Linked DNA regions of Homo sapiens. The protein of the gene in region 1 purifies or fractionates together with the protein of each later gene. This does not show direct contact. Each region holds a gene or a part of one and is shown on either strand. Other genes may lie near its edges.

Region 1 (3,500 bases):
GCTACTTTTTGGGAGGCTGAGGTGGGCAGATCATGAGGTCAGGAGATTGAGACTATCCTGGCTAACACGGTGAAACCCCATCTCTACTAAAAATACAAAAAATTAGCCCAGTGTGGCGGTGTGCGCATGTAGTCCCAGCTACTTGGGAGGCTGAGGCAGGAAAATTGCTTGAACCCGGGAGGTGGAGGTTGCAGTGAGCCGAGATCTTGCCACTGCACTCCAGCCTGGGTGATAGAGCGAGACTCCGTCTCAAAAAAAAAAAAAAAAAAAGTAATGCTACTGTGAAAATGTTTATGTACAAGTTTTTAGGTAGACAGAGGTTTTATTTTCTCTTGGGAAAATACGCATGTGTGGAATTGCTGAGTAGCAGAAAGTGTCTTACTTGTAGAAAGTGTATGACTTGGCCAGGCGCGGTGGCTCCTACCTGTAATTCTAGCACTTTGGGAGACTGAGGCAGGTGGATTGCCTGAGCTCAGGAGCTCAAGACCAGCCTGGGCAACATGGTAAAACCCCATCTCTACTAAAATACAAAAAATTAGCCGGGTGTGGTGGCAGGTGCCTGTAGTCCCAGCTACTCAGGAGGCTGAGGCACGAGAATTACTTGAATGTGGGAGGCAGAGGTTGCAGTAAGCTGAGATGACACCACTGCACTCCAGCCTGGGTCACAGAGTGAGACTCTGTCTCCAAAAAAAAAAAAAGTGTGTGACTCATCACCTGCCATACTGATGCCATGAAGATTGTACTGTTGACCATTTCTACCAACAAGGTATGAGGATTCCAGCTGCTCTGGGTTCTCTTCAGCACTCAGCGTTGCCAGTCTCTCTGATTTCAGGGAGTGTATCTCGTTGTGTCCTTCTCTGCGTTTCCCGGATGCCAGTTGCAGTTGTTTTCCATGTATGAAGACTTGCAGCCCAGCGTATGGTCTGTTTTGTTGAACATTCCGCGTGCACTTGAGAAAAATGTCTGTTCTGTTGTTGGGTAGATTGTTCTCTAAATGTCACGTAAGTAAGGTGGGTGATAGTGCTGTTTAGGTTTCAGCGATTTTCTCTTACTTGTTCTATCAGTTCCTGAAACAGGAGTGTCGAAGTTTTCAACCGTGTCTCCTTTCATTTCTCTCAGCTTCTTCTGTGCTTATTTTGAAGCTCTGTAGGTTGGTGTGTATACTTACAGAATTGTTAAGTCTTCATGATGAATTGATCCTTTTATTATCATGAAACATTCTGTTTATCTCTGATGGTAATGCTTGTTCTGACATTTACTTTGTCTGATATTAACAGAGCCACTCCAGCTCTTTTATGATTTGTGATTGGTTGGAATATCTTTTTCCTTTTGCTTACGTTTAACCTAGCTATGTCTTTTTGTTTGTTTTTGTTTTTTAAGAGACAGGGTTTTGGGCCAGGTGCGGTGGGCTCACACCTGTAATCCCATCACTTTGGGAGGCCGAGGTGGGTGGATCACCTGAGGTCAGGAGTTCGAGACCAGCCTGGCCAACATGGTGAAACCCCGTCTCTACTAAAAATACAAAAATTAGCCAGGCGTGGTGACGCGTGCCTGTAATTCCAGCTACTTGGGAATCTGAGGGAGGAGAATAGCCTGAACCCGGGAGGTGGAGGTTGCAGTGAGCTGAGATCACGCCACTGCACTCCAGCCTGGGGGACAGAGCAAGACTCTGTCTCAAAAAAAAAGAAAAAAAAGAGACGGGTTTTGCTCTGTTGCCCAGGCTGGAGTGCAATAGTAGGATCATAGCTCATTGCCGCCTTGAAATTCTGGCTTCAAATGATCCTCCCACCTTGGTCTCCCAAAGTGCTGGGAAAACAGGCATGAGCCACCACACCTGGCCGGCCTCAATGTCATGTTGATGTTCACTTTTACAGTAAATGTTTCCTATGTTTTTCCCTAGAATGGATGATGAACTTGTTGTTGGACATAGTGCAAGATCAGACATCTCCAGCTTCCCTTGTACATCTGGCTTTTAAATTTCTTTACATCATCACCAAGGTAACATTTCCATAGCACTTCAGAGTTGACAGATACTTTTGTAATATACTTGGTCCAGAGGTTACCCTCCAAAATGTTATTTCTCAAGAAAGATAGTTCTTAGACACAAGTTGTGGGTTTAATTCTGTCCCTTTTTACTGTATGTTGGGGATCAGAATTTAGTGATGTGGGCTCTTTGGCTGAAACAGTGTCAGGATATTCAGCATCTTGCATTTGAATAGATTGAAGCACTGTGTAGCTAGGAAGGGAATGGGGTGGAGATGAGACTAAATCAGAAAAACTTCTTACAAGGAGAAAGCAGGCCGGGTGCGGTGGCTCATGCCTGTAATCCCAGCACTTTGGGAGGCTGAGGCAGGTGGATCACCTGTGGTCAGGAGTTCGAGATGAGCCTGGCCAACATGGTGAAACCCCGTCTCTACTAAAAATACAAAAATTAGCTGGGCTTGGTGGCACATGACTGTAATCCCAGCTGCTTGGGAGGCTGAGGCGGGAGAATGGCTTGAACCTGAGAGGCAGAGGTTGCAGTGAGCCGAGATCATGCTGTTGCACTCCAGCCTGAGTGACAGAGCGAGACTCTGTGGAAATGGAAGTGCTTCTCACACTTTAATGTGCAGATGAATTTCCTGGGAATTTTGCTGTGCTATAGATTTTGAGCAAGTAGGTCTAGGCGGGGGTCTCATAGTCTGCTTTTCTTACAAGCTTGCGGGTGTCTGTGCTCATAGTCTGCTTTTCTTACAAGCTTGCGGGTGTCTGTGCTCATAGTCTGCTTTTCTTACAAGCTTGCGGGTGTCTGTGCTCATAGTCTGCTTTTCTTACAAGCTTGCGGGTGTCTGTGCTCATAGTCTGCTTTTCTTACAAGCTTGCGGGTGTCTGTGCTCATAGTCTGCTTTTCTTACAAGCTTGCGGGTGTCTGTGCTCATAGTCTGCTTTTCTTACAAGCTTGCGGGTGTCTGTGCTCATAGTCTGCTTTTCTTACAAGCTTGCGGGTGTCTGCTCATAGTCTGCTTTTCTTACAAGCTTGCGGGTGTCTGCTCATAGTCTGCTTTTCTTACAAGCTTGCGGGTGTCTGTGCTCATAGTCTGCTTTTCTTACAAGCTTGCGGGTGTCTGCTCATAGTCTGCTTTTCTTACAAGCTTGCGGGTGTCTGTGCTCATAGTCTGCTTTTCTTACAAGCTTGCGGGTGTCTGTGCTCATAGTCTGCTTTTCTTACAAGCTTGCGGGTGTCTGTGCTCATAGTCTGCTTTTCTTACAAGCTTGCGGGTGTCTGTGCTCATAGTCTGCTTTTCTTACAAGCTTGCGGGTGTCTGCTCATAGTCTGCTTTTCTTACAAGCTTGCGGGTGTCTGTGCTCATAGTCTGCTTTTCTTACAAGCTTGCGGGTGTCTGTGTGCTGGCCCAGAGGCTCACTGTTGGCAGTTTTGACTATGGAAGTACTCACAGCCGTCTCAGGGTGGGGCTTGGGGTTCGTAGTGGCGAGGCGCATTTCTGTTGTCTGGCGGGAAA
Region 2 (3,500 bases), on another chromosome or scaffold:
CGGGTAGGCAATTTTTTTTTTTTTCCCCAACGGGACACAAGAAATCAGATAAAGACCGGGCGCGGTGGCTTACACCTGTAATCCCAGCACTTTGAGAGGCCGAGGTGAATGGATCATCTGAGGTTGGGAGTTCGAGACCACCCTGACCAACATGGAGAAACCTTGTGTCTACTAAAAAAATAAAAAATTAGCCACGCATGGTGGCGGGCACCTGTAATCCCAGCTACTCGGGAGGCTGAGGCAGGAGAATCCCTTGAACCCGGGAGGCGGAGGTTACAGTGAGCCGAGATCGAGCCATTGCACTCCAGCCTGGGCAACAAGAGCGAAACTCCGTCTTAAAAAATAAATATATGTATATATATATCAGATAAAAATCAAGGAAAATACATATAAATTGGACTACAGTAAAATTGTGACTGTCTCTTCATCAGAAGATGCCATTGGCTGGGCACAGTGGCTTGTGCCTGTAATTCCAGCTACTTAAAAGGCTGAGGCAGGGGAGGCTCCCTTGAGCTTAGGAGTTTTAGGTAGCAGTGAGTGAGCTGTGATCATGCCACTGTATTCCAGCCTATGTGACAAAGCGAGACTGTTGAAAAGTGCCATTTACAGTCAAAAGGCAGGGTACAGATTAGAAGATATTTACAGTGTTTATATGACAATACATAAATAACTTGTACAAATTGGTAAGAAAAAGACAATCAGACACTGGAGCAGGTACTTCGCAAAAGATGATCAAATAGTGGCTGGGCGCAGTGGCTGACACCCATAATCCCGGCACTTTGGGAGGCTGAGGTGAGCGGATCACCTGAGGTCAGGAGTTCAAGATCAGCTTGGCCAACATGGTGAAACATGGTCTCTACTAAAAATACAAAAAATTAGCTGGGGGTATTGGTGCATGCCTGTGATCCCAGCTATCTGGGAGTCTGAGGCAGGAGAATCACCTGTACCCGGGAGGCGGAAGTTGCAGTGAGCTGAGATCGTGCCATTGCACTCCAGCCTGGGCAACAGAGTGAGACTCTGTCTCCAAAAAAAAAAAAGGAAAAAAGATAATCAAGTAGCCACTAAACATGAAAAAATGCTTAACCTCATTAGTTATTGTGAATATTCAAACCATAATTAAATATTTGTACAAATCCAGTAGAATAGTTAAAACTATTAAGACTGACAACACCAATTGTTGGTGAGGATGTGGAGCAACAGAAACTCTCATACACTGCTGGTGGGAATGTAAGTTTATATAACTGGAAAACTATATGGCAGTATTTATTAAATCTCAACATATTCATACTCTTTATTCAGCAATTTCACTTTCAGGTATATTCCCAGTAGTAATATATATGCATACCAAAAGACATTTCTAAGAATCTTTATAACTGCACTATTTGTAAAAGCCAAAACCTAATGTTAACCTAAATGTCTATCAACAGTAGAATGGATAAATAAATTCTGGTATATTTGCTTAATGGAATACTATGCAGCAGTGAGAGTAAATGACCTAGTACTATACTCAGCAACATAGGTGAATCTCACAAAGAGCATAGGAAGCCAGATACAAAAGAGTAATTCTACGTGATTTATAAATAGAATTTATATTTGTAAATTATAAAGTTCAGAGACTGGCAAAACTCATCAGTGGTGATATGAATTAGGATAATGGCAGCATTTTTGTTGTGGGGAGTGATTGGAAGGAAGCCCAAAGGGGACTTCTGGAGGTTTGGTGTTGTTTCTTGGTTTGGGTGGTTATAAATGTGTGTTCACTTTGTGAAAACTTAGTGAACTGTGCATACATGATTTAAGCATTTTTCTGTATTAATGTTGTATTTCAATGAAAAGTTTACCTGAAAATGAAGCCAGCATGTGACAGTCTCCCTTTTCCTTCACTCAAAAGAAGTGACTGAGTATATTTTAGGTAATCACAATAATTATTAGGAAATTTGAAATCTTAAGTGCTGTAAAATATTGTTTTATTTAAAAAAAATTTCTTTAGAGACAGGGTCTCGCTGTGTCACCCAAGCTGGAGTGCACTGGTGTGATAATAGCTCACTGCAGCTTCCAACTCCTGGGCTCAAGCAGTCCTCCTACCTTGGCCTCTCAAATTGCTGGGAATATAGGTGTGAGCCACCATGCCCAGCCTTAAAAAGATATTAGCAAGCAAGATCAAATGCGGTAAGCGGAGGAAATATTTGTATGAGTGAATTTTGGTATTTTACCTGAGAGTAAAAAAAAAAAATTTAATTCTAAATAAAACTTAGCCACAGTTATTATTCTGTATTATAAAAGTAGCTCTAACTTTGTGAATTTTACTAATATAAAATTTAAGCTCTGAGCTGTATTAAATTTTTTCAATGAAAACTTGTATTTTAAAGAATATGTCATAAATATTCTTTGACCTCACAGGCCAACTGTGCAGGAAGATGGAGGGGATGTAATCTACAAAGGCTTTGAAGATGGCATTGTACAGCTGAAACTCCAGGGTTCTTGTACCAGCTGCCCTAGTTCAATCATTACTCTGAAAAATGGAATTCAGAACATGCTGCAGTTTTATATTCCGGAGGTAGAAGGCGTAGAACAGGTATGCCAATATTATATGACAGTCTAGATTTTTTTCATTTTTTCTTTTTCTTTGTAGATACAAAGGCTGGAAATAGATGTTAAGGCAAGTATTTGAAAAGAAGTTCATGACCTAGCTTTTTCTTCAAGGGCTGGATTTTTGTGTTGCAATTTTTATCAGACTTGAAGTCTCTTATTTTAGAAGTAACTTTGGGCTGGGCGCAGTGGCTCAAACCTATAATCCCAGCACTTTGGGAGGCTGAGGTGGGTGGATCACCTGAGGTTGGGAGTTCCAGACCAGCCTGACCAACATGGAGAAAACCCCGTCTCTACTAAAAATACAAAATTAGCTGGGCATGGTGGCAGACGCCTGTAATCCCAGCTACTTGGGAGGCTGAGGCAGGAGAATTGCTTGAACCTGGGAGGCGGAGGTTGCGGTGAGCCGAGATCGCGCCATTGCACTCCAGCCTGGGCAACAAAAGCGAAACTCCGTCAAAAAAAAAAAAAAATGAAGTAACTTTAGTGTTATGAGAACCTACTATGTGCCAGGCATTTTTGCTCATTTCATCTTCTAATGACACAGTGCATTAAGTCATTCCCATTTTGCACATAAGGCTACAGAGACTCAGAGGGCATATTGCTGCCCTGATTGCACAAAAATTATGAAAAAGGTTTAAAATGTAACACAGTGTTTTATAGATGAGATTTAGAAATCTTTAGTGGAAGAACTCTACTACATCATATTTACCAATTTTTTTTTTTTTTTTTTTGTAGAGACGGGGTCTTGCTATGTTGCCCAAGTTGGTCTTGAATTCCTGGCCTCAGGTGATCCTCCCAAAATGCTGGGATTAAGGATTAACACAACTGGCCTAATCTATGTATTCTTAAATATGCAAGCAAGAAGCCCATTAAGAAATCATAGTTTGTTGTTATACTGAGTAGAATTCTAG

Evidence for each region. The genes of interacting proteins can lie anywhere in the genome.
Region 2: the proteins of TBCD (region 1) and NFU1 fractionate together in Homo sapiens (co-fractionation; one large-scale study listed by BioGRID). This does not show direct contact.

Annotation. Positions count from the first base shown.
Region 1 is NC_000017.11:82,762,065-82,765,564, forward strand, and holds part of TBCD (tubulin-specific chaperone D), read left to right. Parts: intron 1-1,900; coding exon 1,901-1,998; intron 1,999-3,500.
Region 2 is NC_000002.12:69,399,436-69,402,935, reverse strand, and holds part of NFU1 (NFU1 iron-sulfur cluster scaffold homolog, mitochondrial), read left to right. Parts: intron 1-2,397; coding exon 2,398-2,572; intron 2,573-3,500. UniProt on the Homo sapiens protein: Iron-sulfur cluster scaffold protein which can assemble [4Fe-4S] clusters and deliver them to target proteins.